Regions from separate parts of the Homo sapiens genome. Here all the other regions are linked to region 1. Evidence: fine-mapped expression QTL. A gene starts in region 1. Each other region holds a variant in brackets. All regions are shown on one strand. Distances are between the middles of the regions. Region 1 holds the start of IQSEC3 (IQ motif and Sec7 domain ArfGEF 3). Region 2 overlaps IQSEC3 (IQ motif and Sec7 domain ArfGEF 3). Region 3 overlaps IQSEC3 (IQ motif and Sec7 domain ArfGEF 3).

Region 1 (9,770 bases):
GCCTTTTCTCGTAAGTGACCTTTGAAACTCGGGCTGCGCAGAGATTTGCTGAATCAGCAGGACCAACTGTTGTTTCCTTTGCTTGGTTTTGGGCCAGCAGGAAAATGTGCCAGGATGCCTTTGTGAGGCCCTATGGCATTCACTGCATTGGTCTGGGGAGAGATTGGGAGTGAGGAAAGAGGGAGCTGGAGGCTGGTAAGGAGGAGTGAGACAATCAGGGTTTCCCAGAGACCATGGGATGACTTGGTTCTCTTAAATGCATTATTTTTGGATGAAAAGAAAGGAAGAGCAGTGGCCTAGGCCTTCAGGAAGGCAAAGGGCAGCAAATCTTTGCAAGTGGTCACACTATGCCAGCTTCTAGCTATGAATAAAAAGACGCACACTCCCTTCTCCCAGTGAGCCTTCATCCTGGCCCCATTTCTTAGACTAGAAACTCTCTCCCTGCTGGGGATAGGGGAAGAACAAGAGGATAGGCAGATTGATGAGCATGGGCCATACGATGCCACCTCAGCAACCAGGCCTTCTGGGCACAAGGTAGACAAAGTCCCTGTGTGTTGAGACTGTCCTCACCTAGTGATAGGGTTTGGCCTCATGGGTAGGGACTTAGGATGAGCAGAGGGCTGTATCATCAGAGGCTGGAATGAAATGGACATGCAAAACAGGTATCTCCATAGATTGAATTTTCTGCTTTCTGTTCCCTTTCCAGCTATCCTTGCCTCTTACAATTCTGACATAAACCTTTGACTTCAGTGAAGAAAACCTGCTCTTTGGCTGTTAACATAATTTGTATACTCACCCTTTTTACCTTGTGCTGTTCTGATAGAGGATTGCTTTAGGCAGCTGCAATATACTTACACTTGTTTAGGCATTTCTAGATATGTGTCTCTTTTATTTTGAGCAAGGACCATTTGCTTCTTTCCAATCTTTCCACAGCACTGAGTGCAGGGTTTTGAATAGACTGGACACTTGATACATATAGTTGACTGACAGACCTTCACACTTTCTTTCTTAATAGTTTCCAGGATGGGCCAGTCATGAGCTATCACCTTCAAGCATGCAACTCTGACTCAATAGGAGCAGAGATCCCAGTTCCCATCAGCATCTTAGACAAATCAGGATAAAAAGCACATCCAGAACTCTTCTAGCTATCCCCAGCCTCCAGCCAGAATGAGAAGAGGGAGCTCAAAAGATACTCAAGATTGATTTTGTGTTTAAAGGATAAGGGTAGAGAAGAAAGAGATTTCCCTGTGTAGCTTATGTGGAAGAAGGATAGAAGGAAGAGAAGATGGGAGAGATAAAGTGTTTGGGGGAGAGGTAGAAGGGGAGAAGAGAATGAAGGAAAAAGGGTAGTGAGGCAGAGGAGGGATGTGAAAGGAAGAAGCAATGTAACAGAGAGAAGACAGGAGCTGTGGAGCCCTTCAGACTTCATAGTCATATTGAGGTTGGGATTTGGAGTAGGAGATGAATTTGAATGGGGATGCAAGAATTTATCCTCCAGCAATCATCTGCCTGTGGCCTTGGAGACATGGACAAGCCCTGTCATCCATGGACACTAAACGCATGACTGGTGGTTGGGCAAATGTGCTTAGAAGCCACTGAAGCCAGCCACTTCAGATAAGTTCATGTGCTTCCATGGCAAGAGGATTTGTCAGGTCAAGTTGAGGTTCTGGCACCAGCCAGGAAAGGGATAGTAATAAATTCTGTAGATGCCGTGAGCCTTGATTGAAAAAATAAGGAGGAGGAAGCTATGTTTGCTGCTTTCATTAAGAGGCAAAAGCAGTGGGGGTCAGAGCTTAGCAAGAATCAAGAAGCATGCAGAGAAATAATTTTAACCCTTCAAATGTTTTTCTTCCATAATATCTCTGCATTCACTCACCCACATATTGCTGCTTTCTTGGACTGACCTCCAAGACCACCACCTTTGTGTCTCCCTCAGCTGAAGGAGGGAGAGAGGCCAGATTATGTATTAATGCAGATAAGATGGCAATTAAATGATTCATTATTTTCCAGTCCCAGTTATCTAGGGCTTCTGCCTCTCCTGGAATTGGGTAGGAAGAGGAGTTCTGGGGATAAAAGTCAAACTGTGTGAGGACATAATGCATCTACCAGAGTGCCTGGCCTCTGGAAACCCTCACCCACTCTTCAGCCACCTCAGTGGGGTCGCGTTCTTGCTGAAAGGAGGCCAGAGGAAGAATGAGGGAGGATTCACAGGAAACCCATGATTGGAAGACCCACTGTGCCATCTCTTCCTCCCGCTTCAGCACTCCCAGTAGAGAACCAGTTCTGCGGGGAGCTCCCCAGGAGCAATACCAGGGAGGGGGCTGCTGGCTCTGCTCTCCTCCTCCTCACCTCTCCCTCTCCATGGAGATCTCTGTCTGCCTGCTGGCTCCATCTTGTCCTGCATCATAGACAACTATGGGCAGAGGAGAACAAACATACAAAACGGGCCACGGGCAGAGAGCAGGGTAGGACGAAACATGTCATTAGCAATGGTGATTCCGTCCTGAGCTCTGTGGGGAAATTGGTGTTGAAGTTGGGCCACTGTGGGGAAAGAAATGAGTGGTCCAGAAGATATTCAACCAGCCAAGATTACCATGTTTTCACATCCAAGGAAGGAGAGCTGCAGGGATGAGGGGAGGCAGGCACATCTATGGTCTCTATGTTTCTGAGTGTGCAGGATTGGGGAGCAGGAGAAAAAGCTGGAGAATCTGGAGAAAGTAAGGCATTACTGTTAAGTGCCTGGGGCAACTTTCTAAGTGAAAGATTCCAATAACTTCCACTCTGCTCCACCATGCTAATTATTTTTTATTTTTGTTCTGCTCCTTTGGGAAGCAAAAGCAGGACAGGTGAGAAGGAAAGGTGAGGATATTATAACTCCTCTCCAGAATTGACATGTGGAGCTGGACAGGAGCCCAGATGATTCCTAAATCCCAGGATTCCGAGCAGGACCAACTGAGTGAAAGGGTTTGGGTTCCGTAGGCCACTCTGAAGGCTATGGCTATGTCTTTGTCTAAGAAAAATAATCTTTCCTCAACTCTTCTTGGCCACACAGTGCCCTGAAGAGATGCAAAGAAAGTGGAGTTGCAGTGGGAGAGACAGGAGACACCAAAAGTCATGAGGAGAGAAATCATAATGACCAGGTAGCTGTGGCTGCCCTCAGGGAAGGGGACTGGAAAAATTCATCCCCTCATGTGGGGGAAAAGACCACTTAGTATCTTGGAACAATGTTGCCTTTTGCTGAGCCTTGGGCATTGAGGGAAAACTGACTTTCTGCTTTTTATGCCAGATAAGGAAAAAATAAAAATAAAAATGTGAAACTGAGGGAAGTACAAAGGGGTTTTGAGGGAGTTGGGGTAGAAAACTGTATCTTCTTGGGACTTGAATCAAATGTTTTAAGTCTGCCAAGCCAGATCATGTTAGACCTTCACCTCTTAGATCCTGTGGTTTTGATCAACGTGCTCTGTGAGCTACCCTGCCCTAACCCAACTTCTCTAACTCTACCACAGATGGTAAAAGAAAATGAGTTTTGAAGGAATACAGCAAATATTCACAAGTATCTCCCAGACTTAATGCACCTGGATGAAGATGAGATTCTCAGCTCTACTTCCCCCTCCCCATTCCCTTATGCATCACCATTGTCAAGGTCAGGTGCTGACCAGGGACAATTTCCCTTGAACTGTTCTTTGTTTAGTTCTCCATCACTTGCCTAATCAGAGAAAAGAAGCAGACATGGCCACAGCCTTTCCAGTACAGAGGAGAGAACATCCCAGACACTTTCATATCTTCTTCCCATATTCCTAGTTCATGGACCTCCTGAGTGAAGAAAGAGCTTGAAGTTCTAGGAACTGAGAGGTTAACATTTCTCTCAGGACCCAAGGCAAGATTTCAGTGATCACCAGATAACCGGGAAAAAAGGGTTTGCAGTTGCTGGCCTTAACAGGGAGATTTAAACAGGCATGGCATCTGAATACCAACTCCATCTGCCAACTGTCCCCCATGTCATTGCTCCCTTTCAACAACGGCCAAACACCCTGTATGAAAAACCCTCCTTGAGTTGGAGGAAAAAGCTGTAACCAGACTGAGTCCTCAAGCCATGCCTGAGTCCTCCATTGGTTTGATGGGATGTTCCCTTGCACCTCTTCGGCTCTGCGGGAATTCAGAGGAAGGGTGTCCAATCAGGTCAGAGAAGAGAAAGCTTCCCTAAATGAGCCACTCCTAGCTGTGGCTCCCACTTCACCAGCTAAAGAGCCACATTTTCTCTTCCTCTGCCTCCAGCTCCCTTGGTTTCCCACATCACTCCTGCTTTTCAGGTTTGTCCCCGGCCTCCTGGATTCCCCTCTACCCCAGTCCTACTCTTCCTGGGCCCCAGCCTTTTTAAAGCTCTTCACATGCCTCTTTCCAAGCCTTCAGCTTTTCTCACATCTCAGTCTCCATGCAAATACTTTTACTACCCAAACTTCCTTCCAAATTTTTTCTCACTTAAAAAGATTCCTTCAATGGTTCTCTTTTCTACAGTTTAATCTTCACTCGAACTTCAACCCAGCCTAACCCCGTTTAAATGCTGTCAGTTCCCAGTATCACCAATCGCTTAACACCCACCTCCTTCCTCCTTTGCTCCTACTAATGGTCTGGTTACTCCTTTTTGCTCCAGCATTCCCCAAAACCTTCTCAAGCAGGGATATCGTTCCCTCATTTACCCAAAATCTCCTTTGCACACTTCTGGCGCCTTCAGGCCACATCACTCCGGTCCTTTAGACTCCTACGCACCCAACGTCCCCGTCTCTCCCTCACACCCACTTGCTTCCCTTGCTCCCACCACAACAGTGCCCATCTCCTCTCCCCGCTCACTCAGGTCTCCTGCTCAGGACGCCCTTGCCGAGGGCGGAGGGGGATTTGTGCTGAAGGAGGGCTCCGGCAGCAGCGCAGCAACTCGGGGGACGCTCCTTCTCCTTGTCAGTCACGGCCCCTTGTGTCCCCAGATGCTTGTGGGGCGACTGGGGTGTGTGAGCCCTGCTGCCAGGGCCCCGCTGGGGCTGCTCCAGGAGCTGTCCGTGGTGCTGACGCGGCGGCCGATCGGGCGCGGGATGCGGCGCGGCTGCTGAGCGCTGTCCCTGGTCCTGGAGAGGTTCCTGGGCCCTGGCGGCGGCGGCAGGAGCGGTGGCCGGAGCGGCCGGCAGCGGGGCCGATGACGGGGGGACGAGCCCGGGCGGAGGCTGGGCTTGCAGCAGCTGCTGGTGCTCCCACAGGCTGCGGTTCTCAGCGCTCAGCTCGTCCAGCCGCCGCTCCAGCTCGTCGATACGCTCTCGCTGGGTGTGGATGAGGCTCTGCTGGTTCTGCACGATGGCCGTGAGCTCCTTGAGGTAGAGCACGGCGCGCACCGGATTCTCCAGCAGGCTCTCCATGCCGCCCGCCGCCGCCTGCGCCCTGCCTGCGCCTGGGCTGGCGGCGGGGAGCGCGAGGGCGCGGGAGCCCAGCAGCCCAGCGGTCGGCTCGCCTCCCTCTCCCACCGGCCCAGCCTCCCTCCCCCCGCCGGCGCCGCGTCACTGCCACCCCGACCTTCACACACGCATCGCGGGGCGGGGCGGCTGCGCAAGGCCCCACCCCCACCCCACCCCCTACCTCCAGACCTCCCCAACTCCTCGCCTCCCCACCTCGCTGCCTCTTGGCGTCAGCGAAGGCTCTGCTGCCTGCAGGGCAGAGAGGAGAGGGAGGAGGCCAGCGAGAGGGAGCCTCTGTCGGGGCGTGGGAGGAAAGCAAGATAACGCAGGCGACCCGAGAAGGACGGTGAATCTGACTGGCCAGACTGGGAAGTAGGCGAAGGGGAAGCAGCGATACTGGGAAGGTGCGGTGGGACCTGTAGGAGAAGAGAAACAGAAAAGAAAGGAAGAGAAGGGGAGAGGCCAGCAGAGAGGAAGCAGAAAAAGGGAAGGTGGGGCCAAGAAAGAGAAATGTGCTGGAGGACAGGAAGGCGTGGGGCCCTGAAGGGACGCGAATTCTTTTTTCCCAGGTCCAGGCCTTCCAGAGGCTGGGGTTCATCTAGAGACCTGCTGAGGAGGGGCCACACTCGCCTCTTTTGCTCGCAGCAATCTATTCTGCCAGGGGATTCCCTGGAACACAAGAATCCTGGGGCTCTAAGGGACCCTAAAGAGCGTCTGGTCCTGCTCCTTCCTTCATCCGTGACGAAACTTGGGATGGGAAGGCTGTTCATGCTGGGTTTCCTCTGGGAGTGAGACCTCAAGACAACTGTGGCAGTTCCTGATAGAAACACTAAATAAACGAGGTCCTCTGTGGCAAGGGCTAACGCTTCCAGAAGCTTCTGAATAGATCATTCTATTTGACAAACAGTTATAAAATGCACACTATTACCAAACACTGTGCTAGATGGTGGTAAGAGAAGCATGACTAGAATGGAATGTTAGGCTTTTTGAAGCTTATAAATAAGTGGGTGAAATTGGTCATGATTAACTTTGACGTATGATAGTGGTGGTGAGTAATCAGGCAGAGGTTTGCCCAGAGTGCTATAGGAGCCAGCAGCTTGGAGATCCAGGGAGGCTTCTTACAGGAAGTGACCCTTGGTGTGGGAAGGGTTTTCCATAAAGGGAAGACAGCATGAGCAAAAGCTCAGAGACATTAATCAGCACCGATTGAATCATTCATTCATGTCTACAATAATCACCACTCACTAGGTGCAAAGTAATGTACAGAATCTATGCAAGCCACATCTAGCATAGATAATAAGTTATCATTTCTATAATCAAGTTGATTCCAATCTCATAGAGTAGATATGCCATGCACATGAATAAGTAAAACACAACTCAAGATTTCTGTAAGAGCTCTTCAAGCCAAGTGCCATAGAGTTCAGGGGAGGGAGAGGATTCATTTGACTGTGTTGATCTGATAAGTTCTGACAGAGGTGTTACTCAAGTTGGGCCACGAAGAATGGGAAATATTTCAACAGGTAGACAGAACAGGGGGCCAGATATGAGAAAGATACATCAGGCAGCAGGGAAAAAACTAATGAATGGAAATAGAGCACTTGGTTTAAATTAATTTGGCAGGGAAATATCCCTTTCCTTTTCTTTTCCTTTACTTTTTTTTTTTTTTAAAGTCTTGTCTGTCACCGAGGCTGGAGTGCAGTGGCAGGATCATAGCTTACTCCATCCTTGACCTCCTGGGATCAAGGAATCCTCTAGCCTCAGCTTCCTGAGTAGGTGGGACTACAGATGCATACCACCATGCCCCGTGAAGGAAATGAGTTGTTCTTTCCTCTTTTATAGGAATGGGATGGGAAGGAGGAAGGGCTATGAGTACGCTTCGCATGTTTGTTATTGTGTTGTTCCGTTCTTCACACACATGTCCATCAGGCTCCCTGTCAACCTTCCATTCCCCCAGGGTAGGCATATTTATGGGTACCATGTGCCCAGTGAGCTGGCCCACCCCCCACCACCACGTGGTGCCAGACTTGAATGACCTTATGAGAAGGAACTTGTGCTCTGCACATATATTGGTTTATCTGCATTCCTGATGTGTTTTTATTTTGCTTTTCTCCCATTTATCTTCCTAGCAAACTTTCTTTGGTAAAGAATGAATAAAGGAAGCTTATCCACAGCTGAGCTCACGGTTAGGGGAAACAGCACACAGGAGGATGCTTTGGTAGTGACCAGCATTCCAGCTAAAGAATGGAGGTTGGGGGATGAAACAAGGGCACACAAAAACTCAAACTCTTTTTTCTGAATTTTCTTTGTTTGCCTAGTTGATTTGCTGTCCAAGAATTGGGTGCTTGGACAGCAAATTAGAGACGAATACGATAAGTGAAACAGCCTGCAGCATAATTATCCATGCGGATTGTTGAAAATGCAGATTTCTGAGCCCTATATTGTAGCAGGACAAGCCGCAGACAAAATTCCTCAGACACCGAGTTAAAGAAGGAAGGGGTTTATTTGGCTGGGGGCATCGGCAAGACTCCTGTCTCAAGAGCTGAGCTCCCCGAGTGAGCAATTTCTGTCCTTTTTAAGGGTTCACAACTCTAAGGGGGTGCGCGTGAGAGGGTCGTGGTCGATTAAGCAAGCAGGGGGTACGTGACTGGGGGCTGCATGCACCGGTAATTAGATCGGAACACAACAGGATAGGGATTTTTCACAGTGCTTTTCTATACAATGTCTGTAATCTATAGATAACATAACCGATTAGGTCAGGGGTCGATCTTTAACTACCAGGCCCAGGGTGTGGCGCCGGGCTGTCTGCTTGTGGATTTCATTTCTGCCTTTTAGTTTTTAGTTTTTCTTTCTTTGGAGGCAGAAAATGGGCATAAGGCAATATGAGGGGTGGTCTCCTCCCATAATACCAGTCCTGCTGTATTGGAATCACTAGGAATGGGGACCAAGAATTTTTATTTTAAAAACTTTTTTCATTAAAAAAATCAACTTTGTTGACTTATAATTTATATCCAATGATATGCTCCCATTTTATGTGCACAGTTCAATGAATTTTGACAAATGTTCATGCCCTATTTTAGTCAGTTCCTCTCATCCTCAGCTCCAGTTAACCACTGACTTGCTGTCTGCCAGTATATGTTAGTTTTGTCTGTTGTGGAATTTCACATAAAAATCATACAGTATACACTACTTCGTGTCTTTCTTTTTAAATTTTTTATTATTTTAAAAATTACTATGATGATTTTTGTTTTAATAGTTTCTGGGGAACATGTGGTGTTTGGTTACATAGATAAGTTCTTTTGTGGTGATTTCTGAGATTTTGGAGCACCCATCACCTGAGCAGTGTACACCGTACCTAATGTGTAGTCTTTTATCTCTTACCCCACTCCCACCCTTCTCCCAAGTCCCCAGAGTCCATTGCATCATCCTTAAGCCTTTGAGTCCTCATAGCTTAGTTCCCACTTACACATGAGAACATATGATATTTGGTTTTCCATTCCTGAGTTACTTCACTTGGAATAATGATCTCCAACTCCATCCAGGTTGCTGCCAATGCCATTATTTCATTCCTTTTTAAATCCACTCATTGATTGATGGGCATTTGGGCTGGTTTCATATTTTTGCAATTGTGAATTGTGCTGCTATAAACATATGTGTGCAAGTGTCTTTTTTTCATATAATGCTTTCTTTTCCTCTGGATAAATACCCAGTAGTGGGATTGCTGGATCAAATGGTAGATCTACGTTTAGTTCTTTAAGGAATCTCCATACTGTTTTCCATAGTGGTCGTACTAGTTTACATTCCCACCAGCAGTGTAAAAGTGTTTCCTTTTCACCAAATTCATGCCAATATCTATTATTTTTTGATTTTTAAATTATGGCCATTCTTGCAGGAGTTAGGTGGTATCACATTGTGTGGTGTTTTTTGTTGTTGTTGTTTGTTTTGTTTGTTTGTTTTTGAGATAAAGTCTTGTTCTGTCACCCAGGCTGGAGTGCAGTGGCTCGACCTCAGCTCACTGCAACCTCCACCTCCTGGGTTCAAGTGATTCATCTGCCTCAGCCTTTGGAGTTCAAGTGATTCTCCTGCCTCAGCCTCCCAAGTACCAAGTAGCTGGGACTACAGGAGTGTACAACCATGCCCGGCAATTTTTGTGTTTTTAGTAGAGATGTGGGTTTCACCCTGTTGGTCTTGAACTCCTGACCTCAGGTGATCCACCTGCCGCAGCCTCCCAAAGTGCTGGGATTACAGGTGTGAGCCACGATGTCTGGCCAGCACTGTGGTTTTGATTTGCATTTCCCTTATCACTAGTGATGTTGAGCATTTTTTTCATATGTT
Region 2 (9,770 bases), 73 kb before region 1:
AAAGAGAGATCCTGTCTCTAATAGAAAAAGAAAAGAAAGAGCTAACATTTACAGATAACTTACTAAGCATCAGGCACTTCATGTACATTGAAAACGTTTGATTCATATGAGACAGGTACTCTTACCAGCATTTTACTAATGAGGAAACTGAGGCTGATTTCTTCTCTAAAAACAAACAGGCTGGGCCTAGTGATTCATGCCTGTAATTCCAGCATTTTGGGAGGCTGAGGTGGGAGCACTGTGTGAGGCCAGGAGTTTGAGACCAGCTGGGCAACACAGTGAGACCCCCATCGCTACAAAAATATTTAACAATTAGCCAGGTGTGGTGGCACATGCCAGTGGTTTCAGCTCTTCAGGAGGCTGAGGTGAGGGGTTCTCTTGAGCCTGGGAATTTAAGGCTGCAGTGAGCCATGGTTGCACCACTGCACTCCAGGCAACAGAGCAAGACTCTGTCTCAAAAAAACCAAAAGCGAAACCTTTGCAGGTAAACACTGGAATGGGTGTGGCTCTTTGAGCTCAGAATGCCTTCTATTATTGTCATTTGATAAGGCCTGGTAAGAATACATTCCTTCTTGGAATGTGTCTTCTGTGAAAATAAGATACAAAAGGATGGAGATGTCAGCTTCCAAGAGCGCTGAGGGCCGAATTCTGAAAGCAAATGTCACAGCATTCATGATGCTCAGACACAGACCAGCAGCCGAGGTGGCAGCTGCTCTCTCCCTCCTCTTCCTTTCCGCACAGGCCTGACGGTTGGGAAGCACACCCTTCCCCTCTCAGAGGCTTTCTCATCGGCTCTTCCTCATCGGCTGCTTCTTGGGAGAGTGCTGCGGTTTGGGCTGTTTTAGTCTCCAAGGGGATGGGTGATTTATATCCTTTTATTCGGCAAACAGCTTTGTACAGAATGAATACCGCTTGCTGAATGTCACCAGGCGGGGGCAGGGGAGCCGTATAGAATCCCAGTGAAGCCTTCCAGGCCTGGGCAAAATGGCACCTGGCGACTCGGTTAGTGTGTGTGTTTTCTCCGGCGGGAGTAAGGAAGACACAGTCAGAGTGGAAGGGAAATGCAAAGACTCCAGCGCCCCCCTCCCCTGCTAGTGCCTGCCACTTTCTGCTTCTCCATCTTCTCCTGCCCTTTGCAGGACAGGGCCCTCTCCACCTCGGAGAGAAGCAAGGCAGTCAGTGACCTATGGACTTCAGGGAGGGGCTCCTTTCTGTGGCGCTGAGTCAGCATGCCAGGCCTGCAGGGCTACACAATCAAGCATGAGGGATTGCGGCTTTCACCAGGGCATATCAGGGCTTAGCTCTGCACTCAACCTTGCCCAAGCCAGGGTTCCGGCTGGAGGCCCCTTGCTCTTCTCACTCTCTTTCCATGCTCCTGCTTCTCACCTCTCCCCATCCACACCTGGGTCTGTACGTTCCCTGAGACTGTGAGCCATGCCTCTTCACACACACACACACACACACACACACACACACACACACACGGGTGCCCAGCGTGGCCCCATTCTCAACACACAATAAATAAGTGCTCGATGTTTGTTGAATGAATAACAAATGGCCAACTCATTCCCCCATGAACCCTGGCACCCCAGCACTGCCCTGCATGAACCCTGGCACCCCAGCACTGCCCTGCATGAACGCTGGCACCCCAGCACTGCCCTGCATGAACGCTGGCACCCCAGCACTGCCCTGCATGAACTCTGGCACCCCAGCACTGCCCTGCATGAACTCTGGCACCCCAGCACGGCCCTGGGGCCTGTGGGCTGCTCTGGCAGGATGACAAATCATGCCCCAGTGTTTAGGGCAGTGCTACCAATGCACTAAGAGATGGGAAAGGTGGTAGATTCTCAGGACTTGGAGAAACTTTTGCAATCACATCGCCCAGCCCTCTCATTTTACAGATGAGGACACCGAGGCCCAGAGAGGTGTCCTGCCAAAGCCACACAGCACAGAGGAGCAGAGCCCGGGTCCAGCTATTTCTCCTATCTCACCACGCTGCCTCTTCTCACTGGAAGAGTGTACCAACGCGGGAGTCTGGCCCCTACCCATCCCAAGCCTGATCCCTACCTAAGGTTAGCCCAGCCCCCAGCCCCCAGCCCAGCTCCCCTCCTCAGCACAGGCTTGCAGCCACTGCTCCAAGCCTCCAGCCCACAGCCCATACACGCAGCCTCCCAGGGAAGAGGGCAATTAGTTTCCATTGTGCGACTCAGCACCACCTGGGCTGCAGGAAAACGCTGTGTTCCCAGCACTCCAGATCAATGTGGGCCTTGCAGGTTAGAATTTAGGGCGCAGGCCACATGGAGACTGGGAAAGACAGAAGAAAACAGACAACAGTCAGGGCCTGTGGGTGAAGCAGAGTCACTCCTGCCCCCAGAGCAGAGAGACAGCAGGGGTGCCTGGGGCTACGGGGCCAGCACCTCACCCTGGCTTGGGAAGGGATGGACTGGGACAACAGTGCAGGAAAGCCAGAGAGATGAGCCAACTAGGGGACACAGAAAAGGAAGGGCGTGAGGAAATGCCATCTCTCCCCTTCTGCAACCTAGATGTATCCTGGATCCCAGTAGCACCTCCATGGGCCCCCACAGCAGTGCTGGGGAAGGGAAGGGAAGCCGGAGGGAGAAGAGAAAGGAGGTGAGAGGGAGGCGCTGCCTAGCATTGTCTCTCTTTCCTCTTTGAGGTCCACAGAGCGTCTCCACCAGCAGCTCCAGGAGGGATGATAAATTGTCAAAAGCCACCAAGAGTCAGGGACAGGAACTCAGTTCTGCCCAGCTGAGGGCTGTGCAGGGATTTCAAGGTACCTGTGCGAACCCCAGCCCTCACTCATTGAACTCAGTCAGAAAACCACCGCGTCAGTGGATTTAGAAATGTGACAGGGATTTCAGAGGGCAATGGGTCCAGCCCTCACAACCCAGCACCACTCTGCAGGCATGGAAACGCAGGCCCAGAGGACAGGGGCTTCTCAATATGGGCACACAGCACCAAGACAGCTCCATAAATAGAAGTGAAATATCCAAGCTCCCACTCCAGGGAAGCTGACCACTGGGTGGATGACTCCCCCAGCGTCCAAACCCTCTCTGGCAGTCCCTTGCTGCTCCAGGAGCGAGGATGAAAGGGAGAGCTCTTCCCAGGGCCTCCGGGGAGACACTTCTGCTGACTGTCCCCAAGGAGAAAGAGGGGAGAGAAATGAGGGAGGGTCCCTGAAGAATGGAGACCTTCAAGAAGGAGGCCAACCTCGGGGACCAGTGGAAGCCAGAAAGAGCACGGGGGCATGGCAGGGGCTGAAGCCGATGTCCCAGGGAAGGAGTAGCTGCAAGGCCCCTCAGCCTCAGAGGAGCGCCAGCCCCGCCCTGCCATTCTGGACAAGGCATGAGTGTGAAGAGACTCTTGCCTGTCCACACTATCAAGGCTGAGCGGGGGCAAAGGCAGCCCCCTGGGGGTCCCCACCCTGCTACTGGACTTTAAAACCATTTTCTTTGGTTTTAAAGAAACAATTTTTCTTTGGTCATGATTTTGTTGGTAGATTTATCTTTATGGAATTGTAGTATTTTCTTGCTCTAAAACCCTCAGTTTAACCCCTTCTTTTTTCTGTCTCACATTTTTGCCTCCAGCGATATGAAAATGAACCTTGGAGAATGGGAGGGTCCTGGGGGAGGGGGGCTGAGGGGCTCTTCACCAGGCAGAGATGAACCCCAGTGCTGACACAAGCCCTTTCCTTTTCCTGGTTTCTCTTGCCCTGGAGAGTGACAGGCAGAAAGGGCTTTTTGTCTCTTTGGACCATTTCTGTATCCCTGCTGCCTCAAACGAAGCCTGGCCTGGGGCGAACTCAATCAATGACTCTGACGGGAGACAGGGCTCCGGCCCACTGGGGTGATGGGCTAAAGAGGGGATTCTGGTTCCTGTGGACAATCTGGAAGCTGGAAGCTGTTAGAACTGGAGCGAGGATTTCACCAAGGAGCTCACAGAGAGAGCCCGGGCAGGTGGGGTGTGGGAAGGAGTGGGGAAAGCCCGGAGTGTGGGGTACTCACTCCAGCACGTCGCGGTTGAACTGCTTCTTGCTGTTGCCCAGGAACTCTCCAATCATCTGGCGGCTGAGGCCCTTTCGCTGGAGGAGGAAATGGGCCACACCGATGGGGGTGTCCGGGATGAAGCCGCGTGAGATCAGGAACTGGATGCCCTTGTCGGGGTTTCTGGAGGTGGGGGTGGGGAGAAGCAGTAGAGAGTGAGCTGAAGCCATCCATGACTCTTTCCTCCCTGTCTTCCACCCATAGAAGTACCCAGAGGTTCTTGGAAATCCAGTTCCCCATTGAAGCTTCTCTCACCAGAGCCTCAACCCACTGAATGTCCTCACGCAGAGGATGGTGTGTGACCAGAAGGAGGACAGGGGAGATCTGCAAACAAAGTGAATTCCAGAGCAGATGGAGGAGAAGTACCCTTCTCTGTCCCTGCCTCCTGGGTCTTACCCCAGTCCTGCCCTTCCCCCTACCCATATCCTGTTGTCAATATGCAGGTCCCCACCGCAGACGCCCCAACCCTGGAGAGAGGGTGGGAGAAACAGAGGTGAGACCTCCGCCACACCACCTCTTCCCTTTGCAAGCTTTGAAGCCATGCTGCTCCCTGAGCTGTTCCTCACAGGTCCGGGAGGAGATAAGTACAGAAACACAAGGTAAGCACTGAGAACCTCCCATAGCATTTCGACATTTTCCGGGACAGCCAGGCATGTGATTGTCTTTCTAGCACCTCATTTTTATTGTATTTTACAAAAGTATTAGCCCACAATGTATTTTCAGAAGGGTGTGGGGGAACAAAACTGGTTCTTCACTATGGATAGTTTAAGAATTCCTGTCTTGGGGCAGATGAGTGTCTGTATGAGTTTTCATGTGCATGCAGAAGAGACACTGCAGAAGTGGGAGTGGTTCAGAGTCAGATCCGCCTTTCCCTAGGTCTGCCGAGTACTAGCTATTTCATCGTGTGCATTTCGCCTTACTGGTGTGAGCCGGCTTCTTTTCTGTAAAACAGCATGGTAATACCTCTGTGTAGATACTGCTGGAAGATTACAGATGCTTTATGTAAGGTGAGCTATGAACAGTAGCTACTTCCCCTAGAATAGGAGCCTCTTGAGGCCAGGGGATGTGTCCTTCTCACCTCTGTGGTCACAGTGCCTGGCACCCAATAAATAACAGCCGAATGAACGAATGAACACGCATTAGGGCCGGGGAGATGTGCTCTTGGCGCAGGGTTATGAAGGGGCGAGTGGAGGATGGAGGCGAGTGCCTGCCTCCTGGACCTGACATTTCCATGGGAGGGGCAGGTGTGCTTCCTTTCCTCTGCTTGGGACTGGCTGTATACATTCGGTGCAGGACCAGTCCCGGTCTCGCTGGGGTCTCTGAGCTATGGCGGTCGGTCATTTCTCCCCTGTTCTCTTTCTCCTGTGCCTCTGCCTGCTTCACACTCTCTCTTCCTCGTAGCCCT[C/T]CCCTCTCCTGCTCTCAGCCGGCATTCTTTACGAGGCGCCTCTCCTCCCTCCCCCACCCAGCCTCGCATTTCACCAACCCTGGGAGCTAATGCGTTTTCCCTGGCTTCATATCCACCCGAATGATTGCTGCGTAATCCTCAAACGGCCTGGACTGTTATTTACTTAATACTGTCTTTTCTTTTACATTCTCTTACTTTTCAAACCCTAGCTTCATCTTAAGCTGTAACAGTTGTGAAAGCATGTGTCTGATGTGTTATTTTTTTCCTTTAATCTTTCTTAAAATAAACTCAGGATGATTAAAATAAAATATGTACTTCCTAAACATGACCTCAGGGATCAGGCACGGCACAGATGCGCCTGCCTGGAGGACCCTGGCATGACGTGGGAAGTTACCTGGCGCCCTGCTTGGTGGAGGGAAGGTGCCCTCCTCCTTCCCTCCCTCCCAGGACGCCCAGGACTCCGGGCTGGGGGCCGGGGCTGACTTACATGTTGAAGAGGTTGAGGCCGATGCGGTAGAGCCGCTTGCGCAGGGTGTCGGTGGAGAGCGTGGGCGACTTGCAGCTGGCTGGGTTCTCGCAGTGGTAGCGCGGCAGGCTCAGGATCATGGCCTGCAGGGCGTCCTTGGAGGCGGAGGCCGACGCCTCCGAGCCTGACTTGGCGGACTTGGTGGACGTGCTGCTGCTGCTCAGCTGCTCCAAGTCGCCTGCCTCGGCCTCGGCCCCTCTCCCCACCTCCGCCGTCTCCTCCTCCTCCTCTTCCTCCTCTGTTTTGGGGGCTGTGGCCCCATCCGCCGCCCCACTAGCCGCAGCCTCTGCGCATGAGTCCTCGGCTGACGCGTCCTCCCGGCCCACGGCGGGGGCTTCCGGGGCCTCCCGCCCAGAGGTCTCGCCCTGCTCGGCCTTGCCCGCCGCGGGCTCTGCGGGGGCCTGGACCGTCTGAGCGCCCAGGCAGTTGGCCACCGACAGAGCCGTGGAGGAGGAGACGGATATGTTCTGGTTGGCGATCTGCACCGTGACGTCCCGGAAAGCCATCATGAGGGTCCCGCTGTGGGCCGGGGGCAGGCCGGGGGTCTCCGCGGCGTCATCCCCGGGCCCGGGGCCCGCGCTCTCCGGCGCCCGCCCCTCGGCCTCCAGGCCTGGGGGCCCCGCGGCCGCCTGCAGGGCCTGGTGGAGCTGGTAAGCGCCACTCTCCCGCAGGGAGCACATGGTCTTGAGGCTCCACGTGCTGAGCGCGTCGTCGATGGACTTGGCCAGGGATTGCACCTGCTCGGTGAAGGAGTCCTCCAGCTCGGTGAGGGTGCCTGCGAAGGTGGGCGGCAGGGAGGGCGAGCGCACCAGCGGCAGCCCCACGAGGCCGTAGCCCTCCATGAGCGCTTTCTCGGCCGCCAGGCTCTCGGCCGTGGGTGACCGCACCTTGCGCAGGGAGATCCGCCGTGGCAGGCGGCTCTCCAGAAGCGAGTTGCGGATTTTCTCGAAGTTCTTGCTGAGCTGGTATTGGCGGAAGGCGGTTTGGATGGTGCAAGCGGCGCGCCGGGACACCAGGTGACCGCCGTACTTATGTTCTAGCATTTCAATCTGCAAGGACGAGGACAGAGAGGAGGAAGGGCTCAGAGGGGAAGGGTGGTCAGCCCTTCTGAGGAGTGGTGGAGTCACCCGGCCACACTCGGGTGGGGCCCAGGAATGGACGGGGGCGGGGGGGCGCTCCTGGGCAGCTAAAGTCTGAACCGCCTAGAACGTCCTGGCCACGTGGCAAGACTCCTAGAGGTGTAGGACGGAGGGGTCCGTTCTGGGGACTAGTGATGTCTCAAGGGCCAGGAGGGAGGTGCTGCATATGGCGTTCAGATATCGATGCTGTGGCGGGTATTACAAAATGTTCATGGCCGGGCGCATTAGCTCAGGCCTGCAGTCCTAGCATCTTGGGAGGCTAAGGAGAGAAGATTGCTTGAGCTCAGGAGTTTGCGACCAGGCTGGGCAACATAGCTAGACCTTGTCTCTCTCTTGAAAAAAAAAAAAAAATTAACTGGGTGTCCTGGTGCGCGCACGCCTGTGGTCCTCAGCTACTGGGAAGGCTGAGGTGGGAGGACTGCTTGAGCCCAAGGAGTTGGAGATTACAGTGAGCTATGATTGTACCACAGCACTCCAGCCTGGGCAAAACAGTGAGACCTTGTCTCTGTTTTTTTCTTTTCTTTTCTTCTTTTTTTTTTTTTTTTTAAGTTCATGTCAGAGATGCATACAGAAGTACTTATGGGTAAAATGCATGATATCTTGAAGTTGTGTTAAAATATTCTGTCAAAAAATGTGGAAGAGTTAGATGACACAATATTAATGTTAATAAATATTAATAAAATGGTTACAGCTGGATGATAGCTACGGGGGAGTTTATAACACTGTCGTTTCTACTTTTGTGCACACTTTAAAACAATAAACAATGAAAAACAGAAATGCTAAAAAACCTCACAGCTCCTCGTGCTTCCCCGCTCCTCCCCTAAACAATGAAAAACATAAATGCTAAAAACCCTCACAGCTCCTCGTGCTTCCCTGCTCCTCCCCAGCAACCATGTCTCTGTGTTGGGGTGGCTCCTTTCCCTGGGAACATCAGAAGGGTCGGGATTGGGGTTGGACCATCTGTGTGTTCCCAGTACATAGTTAGCTGCTCAGTAAACGTGGATTTGCTAAAAAGTTGAGTGGGTGTCTCAAGAATGGGGGTCCCTCCAGGCCACCATTACCAAGAGTTCCCCAATTTGAGTCACCTCTGCTCTTACGGTGGGAGCTGTCCAACCAGGGCAGGGCTGGGTGGGGTGGGCTCGGGGGCATGGCACCTCACCTGGGCAGATCTGATCCCAGGAAAACTTCTGTCAGGGGGCCAGCGTGCCTCCTCTCGGCTCTGTCCTCCTGTCCGTGGGTTTTCTCCTCTCAGGTTGCTACGCTCTCACTTTTCCTCCCTATGGAAACTTCTCAGGAAAGGACTGGGGAGGTATGACAGCCATGCCCCCAGAGGCTTCTGCCTTTAAATAAGGGACAAGGCCTGTGTGAAGGTGATGGGCTTAAATGGTGGCATCCTAGACTCTGATCAGCCCTCAGAGAAGTTTGGGAAGTGCGAGTGTTTCCTATTCACAACCAGACATGCCACTTACACGTGGTGTCCTTCCCGAATGAACGAAGAATCGGGATGGGTGCGCTGAGATGAACGACTCAAGGCAAGAACAGGGACGTCCCGTGTTCTCCAGGGATCATGGGTGGGGAGGGTACAGATTGTTCTCCAGGGATCATGGATGGCGAGGGTACAGATAGAAAGGCCATACTTCATCCCTCAGCACAACACTTCAACCTGCTTCCTGCTCCACTGGAGCCCCCAAAGGCTGCAGCCAGAATGAATGCCTGCCTCCCACAGCCCAGCCGTGCCCTCTGCTCCCTCCCTGCAGGGTGTGATGGGTGCCCCATTCCACGCTAGCAGAGGTAGCCTCTTAGCTCAGGACACCTTGTGGATTCAACCCCAATCCCCAAGGACAATCCCAGATAAAATGAGACATCCTTAGTGCTTGCCTCCAGTGCTTCCAGCCTGGCCATTCCCATTCCCCATTCCCAAACCTGGGGACATCATTCTGTCTCCCCCAACATCCAACTCTACCCTTGGAGATCGTTGGAACTCACGCAGATTAATGTGTAAATGGCAACTAAGCCTTCCTATATGGCTTCTCCCAAAGTTACTTGCATTTCATGAGGGACAAGGCCCTGAGCAGGAGGAAGCTCCCAGTGCTATCACAATCCCCCTATTGGAGGGGTCTTCAAGGTGCTCTAAACCACACCAAGTGTATTCCTCATCTATTGCTGTGTAACACATGACCACAAATCCAGCCACTTAAAGTAGCACCTGTTTATTTCTCATGCAGCTCTGTGAATCTAGTCTGGGCACAGCTCATCTGGGTTATCTGCTCGGGATCTCACCAGGCTGAAACCAAGATATCAGTCAGGGCTGCAATATCATCTAAGGTGTGGGGTCCTCCTTTGAGCTCGCTCTTGTTGGCACAATTCAATTCCTTGTAATCACAGGACTTAGGCCCTCAGTCACTAGAGGTTGCCTGCTGTCCCCTACCATGTGGCCTGCTTCATAACCTGATAGCTTGGTCCTTCAAGGCTAACGGCACAGTGTCTGTCTGGGGCTTCAGCTTCATTTATAGGGCTGACCTGATTAGCTCAGACCCACCCTGGGTGATGTTTCTTTTTATTAACTCAAAATCAACCAATTGGTAACCTAATCATTGGAGTGATGTCCCATCACATTCACTCATCCTGCCCATACT
Region 3 (9,770 bases), 100 kb before region 1:
GGATCCTTCCTCTTTAGTGGTCAGTAAGTGAAAAGCAGGAAGTGACAGCAAAATGTCCTCTCATCTGACCCCCTTCTCACCTCCCTGCTCATGAAAGAAAGAATGAGGGGAGTGGGGAGACAGAGGATGGAACATGAGCAGCAGGTCAGAGAACAGCTCAGAGAAGATGGAGAAGCACCTGCCAGAGGGGCTTGGCCAGCAACGGCAGAGAGAGGGCAGAGGAGAGAGAGCCTGGGGTCCAGCTGAGGCCGTGGGAGGCGAGGCTGCCCTCTGCGTGGGAGAGCAGAGGCTGGCAGGGCCCTGAGCTAGCTGAGGGTGGCAGCCTTGCAGATAGCCATATGCTGTTAGGGCAGGAGGGAGGAGTGCGTGGGGTTGGTTGTCCTCCCTGGGTAGCTCAGGCTAGGGCAGGGCAGGGCAGGGCTGGCAGAACAGAACAGAGGGCTGGGCACGGGTGTGCTTATCTGCAAGGCTCAAGAATGGGCAGCTGTGGAGGATGGGGAGTGGAGGGGGGCGGGGAATAGAATACCCACCCTGGGGGCTTGTCAGCGGCTGGGGCAGGAAGCTCCTCCTTGTAAAGGTGCCTCCTCCAGACACGGGTGTGTGGGGGGTGGGGGGCCATGGGGGAGAGAGAAGACACTGAGCTCCCCCGGGGTATCCTGCTGCTTCCCAGGGCTTAGTCAGACTGATGGGTAGGGCAGCTTCCTAAGACACCTAATGGGGGCCCCTCCGGGTCGAGGTTAGGGTTGCGAAGGGAGGTGTCTGTATGAGCAGCCGGTGGCCCCGGGAGGCCGGGCAGAAAAGGAGTGGAGCTGGGACTCACTGGGGTGCAAGAGGACCCAGTGGGAGAGGGGTGGGGCTCACGAGGCTTGTAGGGGCACCTGCACACTCCTCCCATAGGTGGCACTGGGGGGGTTTGGCAGGGACCAGCTGCTGCTGGGTCTTCTGCAGTCCCTCACTGTATGGCATGGAGCCAAATGGGCAGCCTCCCCTCCACCACAGACAGTCTTCAGCTTATCACTTCCCCCAGGACAGCCCTCAGGACAGCCCCACCCTACTCTGTCTCATTTTCTTTTGCACACACATCCCTGCGCCATGGCCAGCTTTCCAGATGGACCAGTTGTTCCGGGGAGGAGTTCCCCCTCCCACCTGCCCCCAAGTCTCAATTCTCCAACCTAGCCCCAGGTGTCCAAGAGGGCAGGGTCTGCCCCAGAAGTGATCGTTTGGGGCCTAAGGGGTAATTCTCCGAGGGAGCCCAGGCTCCCCGCTATGGATGGTGGGAGGACTTGGGGAACGGGATGTGGGGTCTTCTGATACAGCAAGTACTGGGGGAGCAGTGAGCAGTGAGCATTTGCTGGGGAGGTGGATTTGGGGGCACACAGGAAGGATGGCCCTAGGGTGCCGTGAGCTCCGTCTCCACTGTGTTAGTCTGGGAGCTCGGCCTCGGAGGGCAGCAGGCTGGGGAAAGGGGAGAAAGAGCTCGTGGCTTAATTAGGCGCTGGAACAGTGGCATTACCCATGCTAGCAGTAACTTTTAATTGTATCTCTTGAAATTGGTAAAATGGTGAGTCGGGCTGGGGAGGCATTGATTAATACCTGAGAAGAGAAACAACAGAGACGGTGAGAAGAAGAACAAGGGGGCAGGGTAGTCACTCACCTGGGCAACCAGGGCTCCACTTACCTCCACCGTGCTCTCCGCCGGCCTCTCCCTGAGCGCGGCTTCCCTTTTGGCTTTGAATGCAAAGAGCACAGGGCTCATTCTCCACCGGCTGAGCCAAGCCCCTGCCCCTCCCCTGTGCCCCTCAAGCATCTCTGCAGCTAAGACTTGGGGTCACACTGCTCCTCACTGAGGCGGAGGTTGGGAGCCCCACTCTGCCACTTAGGAGCTATGTGACCTGGGCGAGATGCTACATCTCTCTGGGCTGCCGCAGACTAGAAGATCGCTGCCGCTCTTTCTGATGTTGGCATTGTGGAATCTGATTTACCCACAGTCAAAGCCTTCCCAGTACGAACTGTAAAAGGCTTGGAGGGGGCCTGGGTTGTGGGCGCCACGTTCATCAGCCTCCGTGGATCACAGGCTCCTTGAGCGTGGGCCACGCTTCTTTGCTCCAGCCCTGCAGACTGGCTGAGGGGGCAGGACTGAATGGGCTGAGGCCTGCACAGCACTCACCGCAGTGCCGGGCACGGTGAGAGCCGATAACTGCTCTGTAATTACTCTGAGGGCCTTCTGGCCGGCCTGGCACAGCAGCAGGGGCCCTGCGGACCCCCACGGACAGCTCATTGGCTCTTTGTGGCTGAGTCACTCCCAGCTTCCACCCCGACCCCCGCAGGAGCCCCTCTCATTTCCCAACCCCTGGGGGTGCCAGCTTCCCCCTGCTGTGCTCAGCCCTCTGCTTCCTGCAGCAGGAGAGGGAGCTGCACCATTGTTTGGGAATGAGAAAGACCCCGCTGTGGAGGGGACTAAGGGACACGTCCCTGGGGACAGGCATCTGGGCCTAACCAGGGCGGGCAGCTTCCAAAAGAGAGGCAGGAAGGAATGGCAGGGAATGACACACAGCTGAGGGCTGGCTCTGGGGTTCCACAGCTGAGAAAACAAAAGCAGCAACCCGTGCCCTATGACCTTATAGAAATGAAGAGGCCAGTGGAGATCAGGCAGCGTGGAGAATTACGGACGCACGATGGCAGGTCAAACCCATACAGGAAAGATTCCATCACAGAATCTCCACATAGCGAAAAGAGCCCCATGTCCTGCTTGGAAAGTGAATCTCATGTCCTCGCTGCCGTAACTAGTCCCCACGCTGCTGCCTGTTCCAAGTCAGGACTCAGGGCCGACTGTGGCGGGTCATGGACCACACGGGGCCCACTGGAGCTTCTCAGCTCAAGCTGGCGTCTCACTATGACCCTGGCTTTCCAGTGTTCTGCACAGGGCAGCAGCCATTCGAGAAGTGTTTGTTGAGTGTGAGAGTAAGTGACCGAGTTAACTAATGGGTGGACAGTTGTGAATGGCTTGCTGGGATTTCACTGGGATGAGACTGAATTCTCATGCATCTCCCCTCATGCTCTTTATTTGGGGCTGGTGGAGGGAGGTGGTGGAAACCTTTCCTGGCCCCCTGCAGGTGGGGTAAGGTTGGGGCAGGCCAAAGGAGGGGCCAGCTCTGGAGCCAGTGTGACTCGGCTGGAGTGAGCAATTCCACTGGAGAAACCACTAGAGAAGTGGAGTTTGAGGGTCTCTCTGGATTTGGGGTGGGCTGACCTGAGCCAGGGGTCAGGAAGTGCTTGTGGCTCATTAGAGAAGGGACTGTACAGAGAAGAGCAAGATCCAGATCCTTCTGGTCACCCTGCCCTCTTACACTGCCTGGTTGGAGAGTGTTCCTCGTGGGGCTTCTCTTGACCTCGCCTCGTCCAGACAGCCTGGCTGCAGGAGGGAAGGCCTCCCTGCAGGGGCCAGGATGCCAGGACTCTTGCCTGACTCCTCCAGGGCAGACAGTGACATCTCACACGGACTCCAGACCTCTGGTGCAGTTTGCAAAATGGACAGACACATTTCTCTCTCGCCTTCCTCCTCACTCCCACCACTAAAGCTCATGAGATTAAAGAAGGCAAGCCTGGCGCTCCTCAGCAGGAAGAAACACGCCACGGGAATGGGCACCTCTCCCTGCAGATTGCCCAGGACCCACACCCAGGGTCCCCGAGTGGCCTCCATGGGGACTGGTGCCCTGAGCGGAGCCGAGGCTCACCTGTCGGCGATCCTTGCTTTGACTGTGGGTCCCCCTGGGCTCCGCAGGGCTTGAAGGAGAGTGTCTTTGTTCCCTGCTGCTTCTCCAGCTCCCCTAAGGAATGCAGAGGCCCGTGAGCAAGAGAAACCTTAACCTCAACCACACAGAGGCGAGGCAGGAAATGAGGGGCCAGCAGAAAGGGGAGGAAGAGGAGGAGAGGTCCCAGTACATGCTGTGAAACACGGACCTCGGGTCTGGCCCCACCACTGAATAGCAAGTTAAATACCCCCTCGGAGCCGCAGTTTCGTCATCTGTACATGGGGATGATCCTATCTGCTTGAACGTCAGAGAGGCACAGAAGAGGCCGATGTGAGGGAGGTGAACTGCCTGGGTTTGGGTCCTGGTCCTGACACTCCCTGGCTGTGTGGTTTTAGGCAAGTTACCCAACCTCTCCATGCCTCACTCGAGAGGACAGCCAGGCCCACTTCACGGTGTCATTAAGAGGACTGCGTGGGAGATACACATAAAGCACAAGGCCTGGCTAGTGACCTGTACTCCTTAAGTATTAAGGTTTGTGCGAAAGTAATGGCAAAAACCGCAATTACTTTAGCACCAACCTGTATCAGTTTTGTTACATTGTGTGAAACGCACTTGGCACAGCAGAGCCTGCTGACAGGGGTGACACCCACCTCTCCACCCGGCGCCTGGGAGGACGGAGCCTGCCTGGGAGGACAGAGCCTGCCTGGCCAGCTGAGCCTCCGCAAGGTGTTCAAATCTCTCCCAAGGAGGAAAGTCCACACCGAGGGTGTGGAAGCTACAAGCCTGCAGTGCTAGGACATCTGTCTAGGTACTCAACTTTAATTCCTCTCACTGGATTGGAAACCTGTTCCTTCTTGTTCTTCTCTCAGTGGAGCTACAGAACTGCCGGCTGCCATCCTTGGAGATTTGACATGATTATTAAATCACTCCTCCCGCTTCTCTTTTCCAGGAGACATAACTCAAGTTCCTTTTATTAAAGCTACTCTCCTGGGCTCCATTTTCAGTCTCTCTGGTTGTCTAGAAACCAGGGACACTGAACCGTAGGCCCCCAAACCAGAACAATTTGTCCTGGTTGCCTAAATCACACCATCCCATCGATCAATGCTAAATATTTCTACTCAACTGAGAGTTGTTTCTCTCCCCACAGAGGGGCTCTCTTGGCTTTGGAGAAATTAGCCTGATAATTACAAGTGAGGAGTCCTGGGCCATTGGATGCAAACCTTGTTTTGTCACTGACTGTGAACTTGGACAACTTCCCTAAGTGCTTTTAGCCTGTTTCCTTACTTGTAAAATGATGCCCACTGTGGAAAGCTGTTGTGAGGATTAGTCCTCAATAAATGGTAGCTGATACTGTTTTCCATTTTCTTTTCTTTTTTGTAGAGACGAGGACTCGCTGTGTTGGCTGTTCTTGAGCTTCTGGGCTCAAGCAATCCTCCCTCCTGAGCTTCCCAGAGTGCTAGGATTACAGGTGTGAGCCACTGAGCCCAGCCCATTTTCTTTTTTTTTTTTTTCCTGGCTTCCTTTCCTCCCTGTCTCCCTGGCCTACCCTTCCTCTTCCCTCAGCTGTTCCTTCCCTTTCTCTCCAGTGAAGACTAAGGGCCAAGCATGAGCCTTTCTTCCTGCTCTTTTACCCTTGAGGCAGCAGGAGAGGATATTCACCTCCTGACATGACAGATTCTGACGCTATCTGCTCCTCTGTGACTTTGGGAAGCGGGGTATGTGCTGCTCCTGGGCTGATGGGGGAAAGTGCCTCTCCCAGCAATGCTGGTGCCACTTGGTGTGCTACGGCCCCCCAGGGCAGTGCGGAGCCATCTGGGACAGTTAGACAATGAGAGACGTGAAGCCATTTCAAGGTGCTTCCTTGAAAATGCTCCAGAAAAACAGCAGAGGCGGCCTCTCTGGGGATCCGGTCCAGCC[C/G]TTGAAAAGAATCTGTTTGTTTCACCACTGAACTCAAATAAGCCAACAGATTGAAGGAAGGGAGTTTCCACGCGCCCCTCCCCACCAAGCAGTTACCTGAGTTCCAGAGTCCAGTCCGATGGATCCCATTTTACCCTGGTTTAAATTGTTTCCTTAGAAAAAAATAAACAGAACCTCTTCTCTCACTCTCCAGTGGAAAGTATAGAATCAAACGTAAATGAAAATGACAGTTTCTAACATGCGCGACCTGGACACGCGGCTGAACTCCGAGCCTCAGCTGCAGAGTGGGGTCAATGCACCTACCTTGCAGCGTCACTGTGAGGATCCACACAACAGAAATAAACTGCTTAGTGTGTAGTAGGAGCCTCAAAAATGATGATTCAAAAGCACCAGCCTGTCACATTCATCCCCTGCTCAAAAACTCTCCCTGCCTTTCCTAGCGCCTAATGGACAGATATTAGTTCAGAAACACTTTATAACTAAGTGGCCATAGAGGCAGGCCTGAAGCCTATTTTCATTTTCTGTTTCAGTTTCTGAATCTGTTCTTATTTAGTCTTCCCTTAAAGGCTATCTGGCGCCTCCGTGATGCTTAATCAGGACAAGCTTGCAGATGGGTACAGGTTGCAGGCCCTTGCCTCTCTTCCCTTAACCCCACAGCAGCCAGTAAACCACCTGGACACAGAAAGAGACCCACATATTCTCTAAAATGCCTGAATGGAACAATCTAGAATCTAAGCATTCCTTATAGGAACAGAGACTACTGTAAGATGCGGGATAGTAAGAAGGCAGCCTAGACTCTTCAAAAGGACAATGTTTTAAAAAAAATGAAGTGGAGGGATGATTCAAGATTAAAAGAGAGTGAAGAAATGAGGCCAACCAGATGCAGTGTACAGACTTGGGCCACAGTGGGGGAGGTGACAGCAGACGGTTTGGTGGGAAGGAACGCACCAGAGCCCCATGGGCCTGCCTGGCCAGCTCGCTTGGTCATCCTGGTAAAACAGCAGAGCTCTCTGTTCCAAGAGGCCCACGCGCAGCCCCACATGCCTGCTGATCTGTGTACACACGTGTGTGCACTCTAGCAAGCCTCACTTTAATTGTGAAGAAACATGGGAACCGGTGCTCCCACCCGGGCTGTGGGAGTGTGGTGCGGTGGGGCCTGGACACGGGGAGGGTCCGAAGTGGGGCCAGCTCCCTGGAGTCAGGCATGTCTGTCTCAAGCTGCCCCTGTCCCTTGCTGAATGGGAACCCCCACCAGCTGCCTCGGGAGCCCGTGTCCTTACACTCTATTCGGATCTGCTCCAGCTCCGTCACCTCAGCAATGGACTCCTTCAGGTCCTCCACGAACTTCTGCATCTCGTCCGAGCCCAGGGCACAGAAATGCAGCACCTGCTTCTTCTCGGAGCCCGAGAGCGGGGTCACCAGTGTGATGCCATGAGAGTAATCTGGAAAGCAGACCCCAGGCCCCCAGTGGGCTGTGAGCAGCAGCAGCCGAGGGCCAGAGCCAGCCAGACATGAGGAGGGCACGGGGTCTCATGCCTCCACCCACTCTGCTGTCCAGCCCTTCTCCCTCAACTCGCCCCAGCCATTTCATCCATTCATTCCTTCTCAAAGACTTACACTGGCTGTCAAAGACTTACACTCGTTCTCAAAGAGCTGGAACTGCATGCCCAGCAGGCCAACTGACTTGCAAAAGGTGTACGTGGAGGAGCTCTTCTTCTTCGGGCAAAGTTTGAGAATCTGTTCAGGAGAGGGAAACAGGCATGCCCTGATGAACAGACACTCACGGACACATGGATGCACAAACACCCGGGGGATGCACGATCACACAAACCCACGCAGTGATGAATGTGCACATACAGGTACAGATATACATATATGTGCACACACTATCCCAAAATGTGCTTCTTCACTGCACAAAACCCTACAGTGGTTATTCCCTCTGTACTTAGAAGCCAAGCCACGGCGCCTGAGCTGGCCTGTAAAACCCACCTGATGTGGTCCTTGCCTTACTCTGGCCTTCTGCCCAAGTGTCCTCCCTGCTGTAGCTTGAGAAGGGCAAGCTCAGTTCCACTGTGGGCCCCTCGCATACACTGTTCCCACTCCACAGCTCTCCCGGCAGCTTTTTGCACGGCTGCATTACTCTCATTACTTAAGTCTCAAATGCTACCTCCTTAGAGATGCCTTCCTGGATCACCTCCTCTAAAAAACAAACCAAAGCAAGCCCAAACCTGGCCCTTAACTCCAGTCACTCTCTGTACTATCACCTGGTTTGTGGCCTTCATAGTGCCTTCCCCCAATCTGATATTATCTTGTTTGTCTGTTTCTTAATTATTTTCTATCTCCCTCCCCTACTAAAATGAAAGCTCGTTTTAGTAAAGTCATCTGGTTGCTTAATAAACAAATTTCTATTCAGCAGCTTCTGTGAGCTGAGCCCTGGAGATACAGGAGAACTCAGGACAGAGCCCCTGCCCTTAAGGTGCTTATGGAATGTGGAGTGTCACAGTGTCCATCAGGTGATCAAACAATAAAGCATAACAGCAAAAAAACAAAACCAAAGTGCTACGTGTTTTGAAGAAAATGAAACAGGGTAAGGAATCAAAAGTGATTTGAGACTTGAATGAAAAGGAGGAGGCCAGGAAGGCAAGAGGAGAGTGCAAGGTCTGGAGGAGCTTTGCAAGAAGGAGCAGCAAGTACAAAGGCCTGGCCCACAGGAGGGAGGCGCCTCCCAGGGCTGAGGAGAGGGCGGGGAGGCAGGTTAGGGAAAGGGGACACGTGGCCTGATGTGCACTCCAGAGAGATCACGCTGCTGCTCTCAGGGGGGTGGGGAGAGCCGTGTGGAGGCTGATGTGGTTCACTGAATGTACCAGGCGTGCACTAAGACTGTAGTAGTGGAGGTGGTGAGAGGTGGTTCAGGCTTGTGATCACTTTGGAGGCAGTGCCAACGTGGCTCATGGATAGAGAGGGCCGGTGCGAGGGAGACACAAGCCCTGCTCCAGTCCTGCTCACCAGTTTTCCAGACCTACAATGATGCCTGGCACATGGTCAACGCTGATCAAATATTTGTTGAATGGATACTTCTTTTCAAAGAGCAAAAAAAGTATCTGTGGGTACAGATGTGTGTATGTGTGTGCACGCACACACACACACCAGCCTCGCCTAGGCCCAGGGACAGAGCATGCTCCGCCTAGGCCCTGCTCCTCCCAGGCCCTGGGGTCTGAGGCACAGCCCTGTGCACTCCCTGTCCTGGGCTTCCTGTAACGTGGAGAGGCCAGTGGTCTGGGAACTAGTTCGTTAACAGTTTGTGCAACCACGAGCAGATCATCTGACGTCTCGGTGTCATGACTTATGAGGTAGGAATTAGCATGTCTGCCTGAGCCCCCTCACGCCCACGGTGTGAAAGCACCATGAAGGCAGATCCGTCCCACGGAACAGGCATTCTGTCTGAAAGCTCTGGGCGTCCTTTCCTGCCCACTTCAGGGACCCTGCCCAGGCTGACCAGGGCGGCAGAGGCAGCCCCAGCCCAGCCCAGTCCCGGAGCGGAGGCCACTCACCACCAGCAGGTCATTGAAGAGGAACACCTCCCTCTGATGCGCTGCCTGCTTCTGCAGCTTGTTCACATCCGTCACCTCGAAGAGCCGGCTGCAGCACACCAGGCGGCGGTGGGGCACGGACAGCACCTGCACGCGGGCAGGGCGCTCAGCGGGAGAGACCAGAGGCCTGGAGGCCTCCCCACCCACGCGCCCATTTTCCAGAAGAGGAGACAGCCCGGGAGAGGGGAGGGGCCCGGTTCTGTGGAGGGAGGAGAGGGGAGGGGTCCGGTTCTGTGGAGGGAGGAGAGGGGAGGGGTCCGGTTCTGTGGAGGGAGGGGAGGGGAGGGGTCCGGTTCTGTGGAGGGAGGGGAGGGGAGGGGTCCGGTTCTGTGGAGGGAGGGGAGGGGAGGGGTCCGGTTCTGTGGAGGGGGAGGGGAGGGCTCCGGTTCTGTGGAGGGAGGAGAGGGGAGGGGTTCGGTTTTGTGGAGAGGGAGGGGAGGGGCTCCGGTTCTGTCCTGGGGCCTGGACTTGACTCTCATCCTTCTCTCTCCTCGTCTGAGGCTCTTTCCCT

What was found.
Region 2: its variant is fine-mapped to the expression of IQSEC3 in whole blood (TOPMed, PIP above 0.99). The same link has a PIP of 0.9 or more in aorta, atrial appendage, lung, thyroid, tibial artery and visceral fat.
Region 3: its variant is fine-mapped to the expression of IQSEC3 in skeletal muscle (GTEx, PIP 0.98).

What each region holds. Positions count from the first base shown.
Region 1 is chr12:62,515-72,284 of GRCh38, reverse strand. IQSEC3 (IQ motif and Sec7 domain ArfGEF 3) reads right to left here and starts at 5,518. Exons shown (of 14, transcript NM_001170738.2): 1 at 4,849-5,518. The coding sequence starts at 5,402.
Region 2 is chr12:135,541-145,310 of GRCh38, reverse strand. IQSEC3 (IQ motif and Sec7 domain ArfGEF 3) reads right to left here. Exons shown (of 14, transcript NM_001170738.2): 4 at 5,957-7,044; 5 at 4,026-4,187. It overlaps IQSEC3-AS3 (IQSEC3 antisense RNA 3), which reads left to right. Exons shown (of 10, transcript NR_033859.2): 2 at 742-1,002; 3 at 1,902-2,072; 4 at 2,678-3,977; 5 at 4,067-4,399; 6 at 4,508-4,663; 7 at 4,941-5,071; 8 at 6,667-6,760; 9 at 6,859-7,011; 10 at 7,684-7,900. Among named protein-coding and RNA genes, the nearest start is that of IQSEC3-AS3, 8.7 kb to the left of the region's middle. RefSeq lists an enhancer at 1-146. The variant C/T (reference allele first, on the strand shown) is at 5,470.
Region 3 is chr12:163,070-172,839 of GRCh38, reverse strand. IQSEC3 (IQ motif and Sec7 domain ArfGEF 3) reads right to left here. Exons shown (of 14, transcript NM_001170738.2): 9 at 9,221-9,346; 10 at 7,307-7,406; 11 at 6,950-7,111; 12 at 3,735-3,827; 13 at 1,679-1,728. IQSEC3-AS1 (IQSEC3 antisense RNA 1) reads left to right here. Exons shown (of 3, transcript NR_183431.1): 2 at 5,133-7,528; 3 at 8,083-8,220. Among named protein-coding and RNA genes, the nearest start is that of IQSEC3-AS1, 14 kb to the left of the region's middle. RefSeq lists an enhancer at 1 and a silencer at 4,029-4,502. The variant C/G (reference allele first, on the strand shown) is at 5,670.